Regions from separate parts of the Homo sapiens genome. Here region 1 is linked to region 2. The links come from fine-mapping of genetic effects on gene expression. Tissue or cell type: whole blood. Region 2 holds a variant in brackets; the other region holds the start of a gene. All regions are shown on one strand. Distances are from middle to middle.

The links. PIP is the estimated chance that this variant, and not a neighbour inherited with it, causes the effect.
Region 1: it holds the start of ORMDL3, and the variant in region 2 is fine-mapped to the expression of ORMDL3 in whole blood (INTERVAL, PIP 0.97).

What each region holds. Positions count from the first base shown.
Region 1 is chr17:39,923,567-39,930,361 of GRCh38, reverse strand. ORMDL3 (ORMDL sphingolipid biosynthesis regulator 3) reads left to right here and starts at 2,761. Exons shown (of 4, transcript NM_139280.4): 1 at 2,761-2,878; 2 at 6,137-6,332. The coding sequence starts at 6,159. It overlaps LRRC3C (leucine rich repeat containing 3C), which reads right to left and starts at 2,630. Exons shown (of 4, transcript NM_001195545.2): 1 at 2,548-2,630. LOC124903999 (a long non-coding RNA gene) reads right to left here and starts at 3,642. Exons shown (of 2, transcript XR_007065750.1): 1 at 3,600-3,642; 2 at 3,360-3,434. RefSeq lists enhancers at 2,285-2,896, 2,897-3,507, 5,459-6,244, 6,245-6,795.
Region 2 is chr17:39,898,312-39,906,111 of GRCh38, reverse strand. GSDMB (gasdermin B) reads left to right here. Exons shown (of 11, transcript NM_001165958.2): 8 at 1; 9 at 127-265; 10 at 616-686; 11 at 1,148-1,517. The coding sequence ends at 1,300. Among named protein-coding and RNA genes, the nearest start is that of GSDMB, 16 kb to the left of the region's middle. The variant A/G (reference allele first, on the strand shown) is at 2,466.

The DNA.
Region 1 (6,795 bases), 25 kb before region 2:
CTTTTAGTTGATATATCATTTAATTTATTTTAATCTGTAAGTCTCTCCCCCTCTTTTTTTTCCTTTTTTTTTTTTTTTTTTTTTGAGACAGGATCTCACTCTGCTGCCCAGACTGGAATGCACTGGCACGATCACAGCTCACTGCAGCCTTGACCTCCCGGGCTCAATTGATCCTCCCACCTCAGCCTCCTGAGTAGCTGGGACTATAGACACACCACCATGCCCAACTAATTTTTGTATTTTTTGTAGACCACGGGGTTTTACCATGTTGTCCAGGTTGGTCTCGAACTCCTGGACACAAGCCTTGGCCTCTCAAAGTGCTGGGATTACAGGCGTGAGTCACCATACCTGGCCCCAGTTTTATTTGTTAAGGGAATTGGGTGTTTGTCCTAATTTTCTTCATTCTAGACTTTGCTGACTATATCCCTGGGGAATGTATGTTATGCTATTTTGTGTCCTCATCTTTTCATATAACTTAGCAAACATTCCCCATACTGCCACAGGGTTTTCACAATCTGTCCTAAATGGCTTCATACTATTCCATCCAGTGGATATACTGTAATTTTTTTCTTGGGCATTTGGTTGCTTTCAGTTTTTCACTACTATAAATATTGCTGGAATGAACATCCTGACACATTGCAGCTTTTCCTGTACATGGGATGACTTCCTTAGAATATGCTACCAAAAGTGTAATTATGGCTCTGAGGCAAGAAGAATTTTTCAGCTTCTTGGCACACAGTGACAAGTGTTTGTCCAAGGGTTTGTATGTCCCCCAGCACGAAATAAGAGAGCTGTCACTCACTCTGAATAGTGCTTAGGGCTATTCACAGCTGAAGAACGTTTGGGGAAGATATGATAATTATGAGGGCCAAGAGAGAAGGAGAAAGATGACAACAGGGACTCCCGCTAAATAAAGCAGAAAGTGATCTGCAATTTACCACAAACCTAGAGTGAGTCAGAACTCTGTTCATTCCTATTGTGAAAAAAAAATCCTCGATAACAGGAGTTATTAATAGTGCATGACATGTTCAGTAATCTTTCTGTTAGACTCTGCATTAGTCAGAACCTTATTTGAGACGTGGACTCAGTCTGGGTCACTGAACTTCATAGAGATGTCAGGAAACTGACCAAGATCCAGAGGGATCGATCAACTTGATGGAGGATGAAGAATCCCAGAGAAAAATCAAAGGAGTCAAGCAGGCACACTTCGGAAAAAACAGAGACACCTTTCTTGCCTTAATGCTGGGGAGGTTTCTGTGAAAAGAACAACACTGGGTTTGCTTATGTCTGCAGAAAGATGACTATAAGGAAAGGCACCTCCACAAACCAGGAGAAACTTCCACAGGACATAGGCAGAGCTATTTCAGACTCAGATGATTATTTCGATCTTGGAATGAGCCCTTTTGGGGCCATTGGCCCTGGAAATATTGAAGAAGCTGCCTGTTCTGCTCTGGGTGGTTCAAATACCCACCTGCCTGGTGACCACTAAGTGCCTCTGGGGGTCCCACTCCAGCTGTGTGACAACTGTTTCCTGGCAGCCCCCTGGGGAAGGAAAGGTAGGTGTAGTCCGAGTAAAGTGCTCCGCAGTTTCCCTGGGCTAGCCTTTTCCTTCCTGTTCCCTCACTTTCAGTTCAGGGTGCCATGAACTGCCATTCAGAGTCAGGTTGGCATGCCATGACATCATCTGACCTTGCTATTCCAGCCCTGCCCTGCATAGAGTGGACTTAGAAAGAAGCTGGGTAAGGAGTTGAAACTACCCAGACAAGACCTCTTGGTGACATGGAGAATGGGAGTAACCGAGGAGACCTCAAGAGCCATTTAGTTCAACCTCCTACAGTAATATTAAGTAGATTCCTACAATGCAACAGGTGCTTTACATACATTCTTTTGGGTTCCCACAACCTTGGAGGTGGGGTTTCACAGGTGTGGAATTGGAGATTAAGACAAGTAATTTGCCCAGGGTCACACTGCCAATAAAGGAGGGCCTACCCCATGTCTACCAGGCAGTAAAGTCTGTGCCCTTGCCTTTAGACGATGCAGATGTGAAAACTGCAGACCAGAGCCTCTCATTCAAAGCCACACAAGCTGACCTGAGACAGAAACTCAGGCTCCTTACTACTGATGGAGGAATCTATGATACGTAGCCTCTTCTCACGTCAGGTGCGGGGCGGCCAAGGATGTGGCCCGGTCCGGGGCAGCCTGGGCCAAGCGTGACTGAGAAGGAGAAGGCAGGCTCCGTTCCGGGCCCTCCAGACCCTCATCCCAGCCAATGTTGTGAAAAGCGCTCTCCCAGGAGGGCCCAGCAGGGCAAAGGGCCGGGCTAGTCTGTTTCTGGAGGAGCCAATCTGGGGCCAGGGCGGAGGCAGCCAGGTGCAGTGGAAAAATCCTGCAGTTGGGGTCAGAATATTTGGGTTTCGATCCAGTCTAGGACCCAGCAAAGACCTACAGAAAGTTACTTACAAGTCCGAGTCTCCTCATCTGCAAAACTGGGGCACGGATAAAATACACTTGAAGGGCACAGAAGCAAAAGTTGGAATTGTTACGCACCAAAATTCTATCATCCGATCTGACCATCACGTCACGGTACAACTTCCAACCGTGCGTCCCCGAAGAGGCCGGGAACGGAGCCCAGGAAAAACTACAACTCCCAGGAGGCGTCGGGAGGGCCGGCCCGGAGCCAGCGGAAGAAACTACAACTCCCAGAAGGCGTCGGGCGTGCCGGCGCGGGGCGGTGACGTACGGGGACCGGCGCGGAGCGCTGATTCGGCCGGAGCTGCCAGCGGGGAGGCTGCAGCCGCGGGTTGTTACAGCTGCTGGAGCAGCAGCGGCCCCCGCTCCCGGGAACCGTTCCCGGGCCGTTGATCTTCGGCCCCACACGGTGAGCCCGGAAGGAACCAAGAGGCCCCAGGGCTACGGGAGGGGCGGGAGAGAAGGTGGGGGCTGCTGGGGAGGCGCCCCGGGCTGGAGAGACGGGGGCAGAGGGAGTGGGGGGTGGAGGGAGTGCATCAGCCGAGGGGGTGCATCGGCTGGGGAGGTGGCCAAGGAATAAAGTGCGAGCGGGAGGCCGGGGGTGGAACGTCGGGAGGAGCGCCTCGGCTAGGGGTGGGAGGCGGGGAGCGGCTCGGCTTCGGGGATAAACGTTTGGCTGCCTCCAGGGCTGGGTGAACGCGTGGAGATGGCTGTGGGGTCCCGGACCGGACCGGGTTCCGAGTGCGAAGACCCAGGCTGGGGAACAGAGCGGGACCCCTCCCCCCGGCCCCGCACCCGAGGTCTCACTCAGAAAACCCCAACAACAGTGAGGACTCCGCCTCTTCGCTCCTCCTCTCCTGTGCTTAGTGCGGGTTCGCCTGGGCACTCGCTTTCCGCTCCTACCGCCCTCCCCCAGTCGGGGTGGCTGGGCCAAAGTTGAGAGGTTATCAGCTGTGGTCCTGCAGCTTGGGGGGTGGGCGGAATGGACATGGCATTGTGACGTGCTGCCCCGGACTCCCCGTTGGGGTCCCCATCCAGGCCTGGATGTTTTGTGCTCCTCTTCCAGAAGACAGGAGGTTTGCTGTTGTGAGGGCTGCTCTTTCCTGGGGGAGGGAATGGGAAGGGCTCACCTGGTGGCTGCCCTGGTGGTGCTCAGCCTTGGCTTGAGTGTCTGGCATACTGGCTGGGCCCGGATATTTGTATGTGGAGCCAAGAGGGTGGGGCGGGAAGGAGGGGGAAAGAGCTACCAGCAAAAAAGTGGTTAACACAACAGAGTTGCTGCAGGCTCTGGTTTGAGGCAGGTTATGAAACCACATCAGGGCCCAGCACTAAGCAGCCACCTGCCAGCTATGGCAGCAGAAGTTTTCGGCTCAACTCCTGTAGACCTAGTCGACCTCTGCCAGCCTCTTCTCTCTGTTTCTCCCCATCTAGGGTAGGGGCCAGTTGGTTGTTTTACTAATGGAAGTGATATGTATCCATAGTCACACGAAAGTCTCAAGAGTGTTTCCTCATTGCCAGTCTTTTTGTTAGTTTATTGATCTCTTCTTTTTCAGGGGTCTCTGGTGGTTTCCTGCTCTCAGGGCACCTAGTGTTTAGGCTTCAGGAAGAAGCTTCTGAGGGTGTTGGCTAGGACCTAGGTCTAGGCTTTTCCTAGGCTCATCAAGTTTTGTTGGCTGCCCTGTGAAAGCCAGAAAGGCGTATGGGGTCCTGTGATCTGGGATTCCCCAAGGCTTTTGGCACTCCTGGACAAATACTAGGAAGGGTTAGTGGACTTTCTATACCAGCACCCCTGTAGGTGCGGGTTACAGAGAGGTGATGGGGTGGCAGTTTCAGGTCAGACTTGGGAAGCTCTTTCCCTCTCCTTAGTCAGAGTTAAGTCCTTCAGAGCCCTCACTTGTCAGCCACATGCCGCCCTCCCCTCTCAGGTGGAGGCTTTTGCGTAGCAGCTGTCCCAGGGGCTGCTAGAGTAACTGAAGCCCCAAGGCCCTGGGAAGATAAACAATCTGAGCCAGCTCTGGCTTTCTAGATACTTGAATTTCTGTTAGGCTCAATTATCCAGCCTAGTGGGCTGCGCTGATGGGTCCCAGGAGCATCTCTTCAATCAGAATGCGCCCCAGGCTGGCGCACGGGTGTTTGCTTGTTGGGATGGCGTGTTGTGGGTCACATTTTCTCTGAGGTCTCTAAGCTTGGAGCTGTCTGAGAAGAGGAAACTTGCTCCTGTTATCCTGGAAGTAAATAACTGGCCCCTGAGGACTCAGTCTCCTGTGCAGGTTTGGCTAGGATCCTAGTCAGAGATAGATAGCATCTGGGTCTGACGGGGTTGCTGCAGGGGCGTGAGGGAGGTGGCCTTCTGGGTACTTCTAGAATATCTCCATCTGGGACTCTTTTCTGCATTCCCAGGAAAGATGGGGCTGTTACCATGGTGATGACCTTACGGTCTTTAGCAAGCAGGACCCTATCTCAGATAGGGAGGTGAGCCAGTACACAGGTGCCATCTGTCTCCACTTTCTCCTGGTCACAGGGCCCTCAGGGATCTGGGGACAGCCAAACTCTGGATAAGGGGCAGATCATTCCACCCCTTCCTTCTCTACTTCCCTCTGCTCACTGTGGGTTGCGGCCACCTCCTGGTTCCTCCTGCTGCAGGACTCCTACCGTTGGTGCTGGGCAGGGGAAGGCATGGTGCTAATATACACCTGGAAACAGGTGCTGAGAGGGGAGACTGAGGTGAGGATGGGCAGGACAGAGAAGAACGGGGGCAGGAGGGAGGCCACAGGTTCGAGTCTGTGCCCTTAGGAGACATATGTTGAGGTGGATTCCAGCTCTCTATGGGAGTTACAGGTGTTGGCCACGTTCTCTATCCTCGCCTCTCTTGTGGGGAAAAGGGCCCTGGTGGTTTGGCAGTGGAGTGGGTAGCATCACAAGGGTTGGCCTGAGTGGCTGCCAAATGGAGAAAACATCCGGATGGGTTGTTTTGTGTCACCCAGGAGGGGTGCCTTCTAGGTCTGGGCAAAGGTTGTCCCTAGTCTGTTGTTTTCTCCTTTCTTCCTCCCTTCCTCCCTCCCCACTTCCCTCTTTCTACCTGATCAGTCCTCCTAAGTTGGGGTTTGGGGAGATCCAGAATTGAAAAAATCAGAGGAGGTGAGTGGATGCAGTGACCTCAAAATAGTTCATCCACTGCTGCCTGTACCCACAGGCCTCACTTCCTTTCCCTCCTGATGGGAAGAGCTTAAGAGCAGATGTCCCACATTAGGCCTTCAGTGAGACACAGTCCAGCAGGGGTTGTGCTGAGTGAGAATTCTCTCCCTGGGGCTTTGTCGGCAGAGGGTCCTCATGGGAGTGCCATAGGGGGTGAGGCTGGGGGATGGGCCTTGACTTCTCTGCCCTGGGGCTGCGTGCCTCTTGATGACCTGTCCTCCGATGCCCTGCCAGGGCCCTGTCCCAATGGGATGATGCATGGGGCAGCCTGTTGTTTATCCCAGCCCAGCAGCAGGAAATGAGTAGAGCTAAGTCCACATGGACTTTCTCCACTTTCCATGCTTCAGAATCAAAAGAGTGGAACTGCCTGGAGTTCTCAGGGAAACAAGGGCCTGCCTCCCAGCGGGATCCGAGGGTGAGAGGGGGCAGGGAAAGCAGTGTGACCTGTCTGACCTGTGCTGCTTGTTTGCAGAACAGCAGAGAGGGGCAGCAGGATGAATGTGGGCACAGCGCACAGCGAGGTGAACCCCAACACGCGGGTGATGAACAGCCGTGGCATCTGGCTCTCCTACGTGCTGGCCATCGGTCTCCTCCACATCGTGCTGCTGAGCATCCCGTTTGTGAGTGTCCCTGTCGTCTGGACCCTCACCAACCTCATTCACAACATGGTGAGAGCCTGTCTGCTGCCTGCCCCTGCCCCTGCCCCTGCCCTGTGGGCTGCCCTTTGGCAGGGCTGAGGGATAGGAGGAGCCTGTCGGGCCTGGCCCAGGTGTCAGGGTGATGTACTGACGACATCTGCCTCCAGAGCCCAGGCCTAGCCCTTACCTCTCTGCCTTGCTCCCCCTTCTGGGTTCCTGCCCTGTGTACCATGACAGGAATCAAATCTGCAGATTTTTCCACATCTCTAGGGTGGGGTGGCTGTTGGCCTGGAAGATGTGCTCCTGAGAGCTGAACAAAGGGCTCCAGAGAGTTCCCAGGACCCGAGAGTCCTGGTGCCTAGGCTGATACAGAAATGCCCCTTTCTCAAGTTAGCTTCTCGAACCGTCTTCCACTTTTGCCCTTCTCTGCTCCCTCACCACTTGCTACCTTGCACTCTTTGTCGGGTAAGCAGGGCTTAGTCCCATCGCTTGC
Region 2 (7,800 bases):
AGTAAGGGACCCTAAGAAAGCCTTGGGGCAGAGAGAGATAGGAGCCAGAGGGGATGGCAGTTGGCACAGTGAGGATAATCTGCTATGGTGAGACTGCTGCTCATCTCCCACACTTCCTGGCCCTAGGTATCTGAGGTCCTGATTTCCGGGGAGCTACACATGGAGGACCCAGACAAGCCTCTCCTAAGCAGCCTTTTTAATGCTGCTGGGGTCTTGGTAGAAGCGCGTGCAAAAGCCATTCTGGACTTCCTGGATGCCCTGCTAGGTGAGGAAGGGTCTCGCTGTAGGCTGGGGTGGAGGAAGTGTGAGCAGAGAGGCCTGTGGGGAGTCACATCTTGGGAGGAGGGGCTGCATGTTGCTCTTCACAGTTTATGGGGGGCACTCCTTCATGTCTTCCTCAGGCCAGGCATTGAGGGGCTGGTTCCTCGTCTGTGACTCCTGCAGGCCAAGAGGGAAGCAGGAGTCACAGCAGAGGCCTGTTTGGAGTAAGTCTCATCTAGCACTCCCAGGGGCTCTCTGGAACCTTTTGATGATACATGTTCTGGGTGTGATCAGCCACTGAGGCCCTGTCCCACCATATATCTCTCCTTTTTACCACTCTTTCTTTGCCCCCAGAGCTGTCTGAAGAGCAGCAGTTTGTGGCTGAGGCCCTGGAGAAGGGGACCCTTCCTCTGTTGAAGGACCAGGTGAGACAGCCTGGGCTGAGGGCCATGGTCATAGTGGAAGGGAATGCCCATATTCTCAAGGGACCCAGAAGTCCCAGGGTACAGCCCCTTCTTATTCCATAGTTTTCTGCCGGCTCACATCCATGCAGCTGGTTTGTGACAATTCCCTGGACAGAGAGTTGCCAGAACAATTTGTGGTGGGTTCTTTAGGCTCTGTTTTTTATCTGTGGGCAAGAGAGGGCTGCAAATTGGTTAGTCCCAGGACAGCAGCTGGTATGATCTTGAGTTCCCATGCAGACTGACTAGCAGAGCCTGCCACTATGTTGAGAGAGTATGAAGCTCTCCGGGCTCTGCAGGAAAGAGTGCCATGATGGATTATTACGTCTGCCTATCAGCTCAGCAGCAAGGAGTGTGGCCAAATATTTGCCATTTCTGGTATATCGTTGTTCCTAGCTGTTACAATCTGGGGGGTTTCCTTCCAGGTGAAATCTGTCATGGAGCAGAACTGGGATGAGCTGGCCAGCAGTCCTCCTGACATGGACTATGACCCTGAGGCACGAATTCTCTGTGCGCTGTATGTTGTTGTCTCTATCCTGCTGGAGCTGGCTGAGGGGCCTACCTCTGTCTCTTCCTAACTACAAAAGCCCTTTCTCCCCACAAGCCTCTGGGTTTTCCCTTTACCAGTCTGTCCTCACTGCCATCGCCACTACCATCCTGTCACCAGTGGGACCTCTTTAAAACAAGCAGCCAACCATTCTTTGATGTATCCCATTCGCTCCATGTTAACATCCAAAACCAGCCTGGATTTCATACATGGACTTCTGATTAAAAGTGGCAGGTTGTGCATGTTAATTTTGTCTTTTGAAGCCTCACTAAATGACAGTAAAGCAATAGAAAAACTTTGTATAAACCTACAAGGATAGAAAGAATGCAGCAGCAGATAAGAAACTTTAACACATCTTTGGAAGCTAGAAAGCAATGAAAGGAGTGCAGGCTGGCAGGTGTGGGACTGAGGGGTAGACAGGAGATTGCTGTTTTTATCATCAGGCTTTTATTTATTTATTTATTTATTTACTTATTTATTTATTTATTTATTTATTTTTGAGACAGCTTGTTGCCTAGGCTGGAGTGCAATGGCGTGATCTCGGCTCACTGCAACCTCTGCCTCCTGGGTTCAAGCGATTCTCCTGCCTCAGTCTCCAGAATACCTGGGATTACAGGTGCCCACAATGATGCCCAGCTAATTTTTGTATTTTTAGTAGAGATGGGGTTTAACCCTTGTTGGCCAGGCTGGTCTCGAACTCCTGAGCTCCAGTGATCCACCCCCCTCGGCCTCCCAAAGTACTGGGATTACAGCGGTGAGCCACCGCGCCTGGCCAGCTTTTTAGTTCTATTTGATATTTTTAAAGAAACTGTAATTAAAAGTTAAAGAAATGTATGCTTGTTATAAAACATTCAAACATTTCCCAAATATAAATTAGCAGGTGAAGTTACTCTGTGACCTACCCTTTCTTTCTAGAGACCCAGAGAGGTAAGTGAAATATCAGAACATTAAAGTAATTTTGCCTCAGGTAAGGGGGATTGATATTTGCAAATCCAGGCAAACTAAGTTTGGGTTTGGCTAGCCTCCTGGACTGATGGCTCCAGAAGCCAAGGCCAAGGGCCTATCCAAGTTTGGGAGTCTAGTACAAGGAAACCTGCCCTACCATATTAGACTAATCTCAAAGGCTACACTGTAAGTGTTAGGGTGAATCAGCAGTAAACTTACTGTTCTTACTCCACCCCCAGGGGACTGCAGGG[A/G]AGACTCTCTTGGTACTGAGTGAGGAAGAGGTTAGCGAAAGGAAAGGAAAAAAAATTCTGAGAAAACCACAGCCCAGTCTTTTCTCAGAACTTAGCCTGCATTTGTATCCTCTTGAGAATTCCAGAGAATCTGAAATTGTGAACTTGGTTTTTGGGGGTCTTGGACTGAATGTACCCCCAGATGCCTGTCAGAACCAAACACAAATTATCTCTGGAGGAAGTAATCTTCCACAAATATATATATTTGAGACAGAGTCATGCTCTGTCACCCAGGTTGGAGTGCAGTGGAGCAATCACAGCTCACTACAGCCTCCACTTCCCAGGCTCAAGCGATCCTCCCACCTCAGCCTCTTGAGTAGCTGGGACTACAGGTGTGCACCATCATGCCTGGCTAATTTAAAAAATTTTTTTTGTAGAGATGGCGTCTCCCTGTATTGCCCAGGCTGGTCTTGAATTTCTGGGTTCAAGCGATCCTTCTGCCTTGGCCTCCCAAAGTGTTGGGATTACAGGTGTGAGTCACTGTGCTTGGCTGGCTAAGGCACATATGTTTTCCTTTTGAGAGATGTGGTATTGCTCTGTTGCCCAGGCTAGAGTGCAGTGGTGCAATCATGGCTCACTGCAGCCTCTACCTCCTGGGCTCAAGTGATCCTCCCATTTCAGCCCCCTGAGTAGCTGGGACCACAGGTACGCACCACCATGCCCCATCTAATTTTTTATTTTTATTTTTTGTAGAGATGGGGTCTCACTATGTTGCCAGGGCCTCACTATGTTGCCAGGGCTGGTGTTGAACTCTTAGGCTCAAGTGGTCCTCCCTCCTCAGCCTCCTGAAGTGTTGGAATTATAGGAGTGAGCCACTATGCCGGCCTAAGGCACATACTGTCAAGTAACTCAAAAGTCAAGGGAGAAATCCTAATGGAAGTTATAAGATTTTTTTTTCTACTTAGTGATAATAAAAATATACATATCAAACTTGTGGAATTAAGCTAAAGTCTTTTGTTTTTAGAGAAAATATATGTTTCACCTTGTTTGTTTTAGAAAAGAAAAAAAGCTAAAAAAATCAAAAAGCTAAGTATTCATGTCAAAAAGCTAACAAAGAAAACTCCAAAACAAACCCAACAACAAGCCGCTCCCTTCCCCTCCAAAAAAGCCCAGCAAAATAAATCCAGGAAAAAGAGGAGAAAAAGCACACAAATTGACAAAATAAGAAACAAAAACATTAAGAGGATCAATAAAGACAGACATTGGACCTTTAAAATGACTCACAGATCTCTGACAAGAGTGATATTTAATTTAATTTATTTATTTGTTTTTGTTTTTGAGATGGAGTCTCACTCTGTCTCCCAGGCTGGAGTGCAGTGGTGCAATCTTGGCGCACTGCAACCTTCACTGCCTGGATTCAAACAATTCTCTTGCCTCAGCCTCTTGAGTAGCTGGGACTACAGGTGCACACCACCACACCTGTTTAATTTTTGTATTTTTTAGTAAAGACAAGAGTTTTGCCATGTTGGCCAGGCTGATCTTGAACTCCTGACTTCAGGTAATCCACCCACCTCAGCCTCCCAAAGTGCTGGGATTATAGGTGTGAGCCACCGTGCCCAGCTTGACAAGAGTGATAAAAAGAGAGAGGGAGCAAATATCATCAGTTTTAAGAGTGAAAAGGGAACAGTTCTAAAGATGTTACAGGCATTTAAAAGACAGGAGGATATTAGAAACGACTTTATGCCAATAAATTTGAAATTTTAGGTGAAATGGGTGTTATCCTAAAAAAATACAATTTCCCAAAGTTGTCCCAGAAAAAAATAGAAAACATGGGCCTGGCGCGGTGGCTCACGCCTGTAATCCCAGCACTTCGGGAGGCCAAGGTGGGCAGATCACGAGGTCAGGAGATCGAGTCCATCCTGGCTGACACGGTGAAACCCCATCTCTACTAAAAATACAAAAAATTAGCCGGGCATGGTGGCAGGCACCTGTAGTCCCAGCTACTCAGGAGGCTGAGGCAGGAGAATGGTGTGAACCAGGGAAGCAGAGCTTGCAGTGAGCAGAGATTGTGCCACTGCACTCCACCCTGAGCGACAGAGCGAGACTCTGTCTCAAAAAACAACAACAACAACAACAACAAGAAAAACCAGAAAACATGAATAATCCTCTAAGAACAAAGGATACTCTATCAAGAACAAAATATTGGCCAAGCACGGTGGCTCACACCTGTAATCCTAGCACTTTGGGAGACTGAGGTGGGTGGATCACTTGAGGTCAAGAATTCGAGACCAATCTGGGCAACATGGTGAAGCCCGTGTCTACTAAAAATACAAAAATTAGCTGGGCATGATGGCGCATGCCTGTAATCCCAGCTACTTAGGAGGCTGAGGCATGAAAATTGCTTGAATCTGGGAGACAGAGGTTGCAGTGAGCCGAGATCACGACACTGCACTCCAGCCTGGGTGACAGAGTGAGACTCTTTCTCAAAAACAAACAAACAAAATATTCCCACAAAGAAAATTCCAAGCCCAGATGGTTTCTTCAGTTATACAATTAAGCATTTAAGAATAAGTAACTCTAATTTCACACAAACTTTTTCAGAGACACTTTCCAATTCATCCACAACACTAGCAAAACTTAACAAGAACAATAAGAGAAAGGAAAATGCAGGCCAGTCTCATTCGTGAGCTTAGATGAAAAAACAGAAAAACAAATCAGCAAACCAAATCACCGTAGAAAAATAATAATATAAACTGGATTTATCTGGGATTTCAAGGCTGGCTTAACATTGAAAAATTAATGTAATTTACCACACTAGCAATTTAAGAAGAAAAATGATGGGATCATTTCAATAAAGACAAAAATGCATCTGATAAAATTCAATGTCCATTCATGATTAAAATTCCAAGAAAACTAGGAACAGGGCCAGGTGTGGTGGCTTACACCTGTAATCCCAGCACTTTGGGAGGCCGAGGTGGGCGCATCACTTGACGTCAGGGGTTCAAGACCAGCCTGGCCAACATGGTGAAACCCCATCTCTACAAAAATACAAAAATTAGCCAGGCTTGGTAGTGGGTTCCTGTAACCCCAGCTACTTGGGAGGCTGAGGTGGGAGAGTCGTTTGAACCCGGGAGGTGTAGGTTGCAATGAACCAAGATCACGCCATTGCACTCCAGCCTGGGGGACAGAGCCAGACTCCGTCTCAAAAAAAAAAAAAGAAAAAAAAGAAAAGAAAACTAGGAACAGGAGGAAACTTCTTTAATCTGATAAGAGTATATACAAAATATTTATAGTAAATATCATATTTATGGTAAAATGTTGTAAGCTTTCTCTCTGAAATCAGTAATAAGACAAGGATATTCACTATCACTGTCTATTTGACATTGTACAGAAGATCTAGCAAATGCAGTTAAACAAGAAAAAGCAACAAAATATGTAAGAATTATAAAATATTGCATTACTTACAGATGATCTAATGTGTACATTGAAAATCCAGAAGATTTACAGATAAATTATGAAATTAATAATTTAACAATTTTGTAAAATCAATATATGGACCAGTTGTAATCCTATATATACCACTAACAAGTACAAAATGAAATTTGAAAAATACAATGATAATGGCACCAAAAATATGAAATATTTAGGAAAATGTTGAACTGAAGGTCCGAAAGAGCTGAAATACATTGTTATAAAATCTTACTGAAGCCAGGTGTGGTGGCTCACACCTGCAATCCCAACACTTTGGGAGGCTGAGGTGGGCGGATCACCTGAGGCTGGGAGTTCAAGTCCAGCCTGACCAACATGGAGAAACCCCATCTCTACTAAAAATACAGAATTAGCTGGGCGTGGTGGCGCACACCTGTAATCTCAGCTACTTGGGAGGCTGAGGCAGGAGAATCGCTTGAACCCGAGAGGCAGAGGTTGTGGTGAGCCGAGATCGCGCCATTGCACTCCAGCCTGGTGACAGATCGAGACTCTGTTCAAAAAAAAAAAAAATCTTACTGAGAGACCTTAGAAAAGACTTAAACAAAAGAAGAGATACTACATTGAAGGATTAGGAGACACAATATTGTAAAAATGTTAATTCTTCTCAGATTGATTTATGGATTCAGTACAATCCCAATAAAAATCCTAACAGTTGAGTGAATGAGTGAGTGTGTGTGTTTGTGTGTGTGTGTTTATGTAGGTGTGTAATTTAAAAAGCTGATTCTAAAATGCAAAGGGCAAAAACAGCTATGAGGCTCTTGAAGAAGAACAAGGTGGAAAGACTTGTTCTACCAGATCCAAGACTGATTTTGAAAGCTATATTATTTCAGTGTGGCACTGAACAGGGATAGACAGAAAAACAATGAAATAGAGATCTCAGAAATGGATCCCCATGTAAAAATGGACATTTGATATATGAGAAAAGTGTCACTGAAGATTAGTTAAGAAAGGCTAGACTTTTCAATAAACGGTGCCAAGACAACTGGATAAGCATGTAGATAAAAAATGAAATTTGGCTGGGCATGGTGGCTCACACCTGTAATTCCAGCATTTTGGGAGGCTGAAGTAGGAGGTTAATTTGAGCCAGAAGTTTGAGGTTACAGTGAGCTATGACTGCTACTGCACTCCATTCTGGGTGACAGAGTGAAACCCTGTCTCTAAAAAGAAAAAAAAAAAAAAATGAGCCAGGTGTGGTGGCTCATGCATGTAATTCCAGCACTTTGGGAGGCCGAGGTGGGCAGATCACCTGAGGTCAGGAGTTTGAGACCAGCCTGGCCAACGTGGTGAAACCCCATCTCTACTAAAAATACAAAAATTAGCTGGGTGTGGTGGCAGGCGCATGTAATCCCGGCTATTCAGGAGGCTGAGGCAGGAGAATCGCTTGAACCTGGGAGGTGAAGGTTGCAGTGAGCTGAGATCACGCCATTGCACTCCAGCCTGGGCAACAGGTTGAGACTCCGTCTCAGAAAAAAAAAAAAAAAAGGATCCCTATCACACAGTATACATAAAAATTAAATTCCAGATGGGTTATAGATCTAAATGTGAAAGGTAAAATGATAATTATATTAACATTAAAAACTTCTGTTCACAAGATATATGATAAAGAGGGTAAAAAGCCCACGGAGTGGGAGAAGATATTTAAAATACATGCAACTTACAAAGGGCTAGTATCCAGAATGTATAAGGAACTAATACAAATCAATAACAAAAAGATGACCCATTAGAAAAACAGACAAAATATTTGAACGGCACTTTCCATAAAGGAAAAACCAAATGGCTAACAAATGTATAAACTGATGCTTGACTCCATTACTAATCAGGGAAATACAAATTAAAACCACTATGAAATAACATTATTCCCTCACCG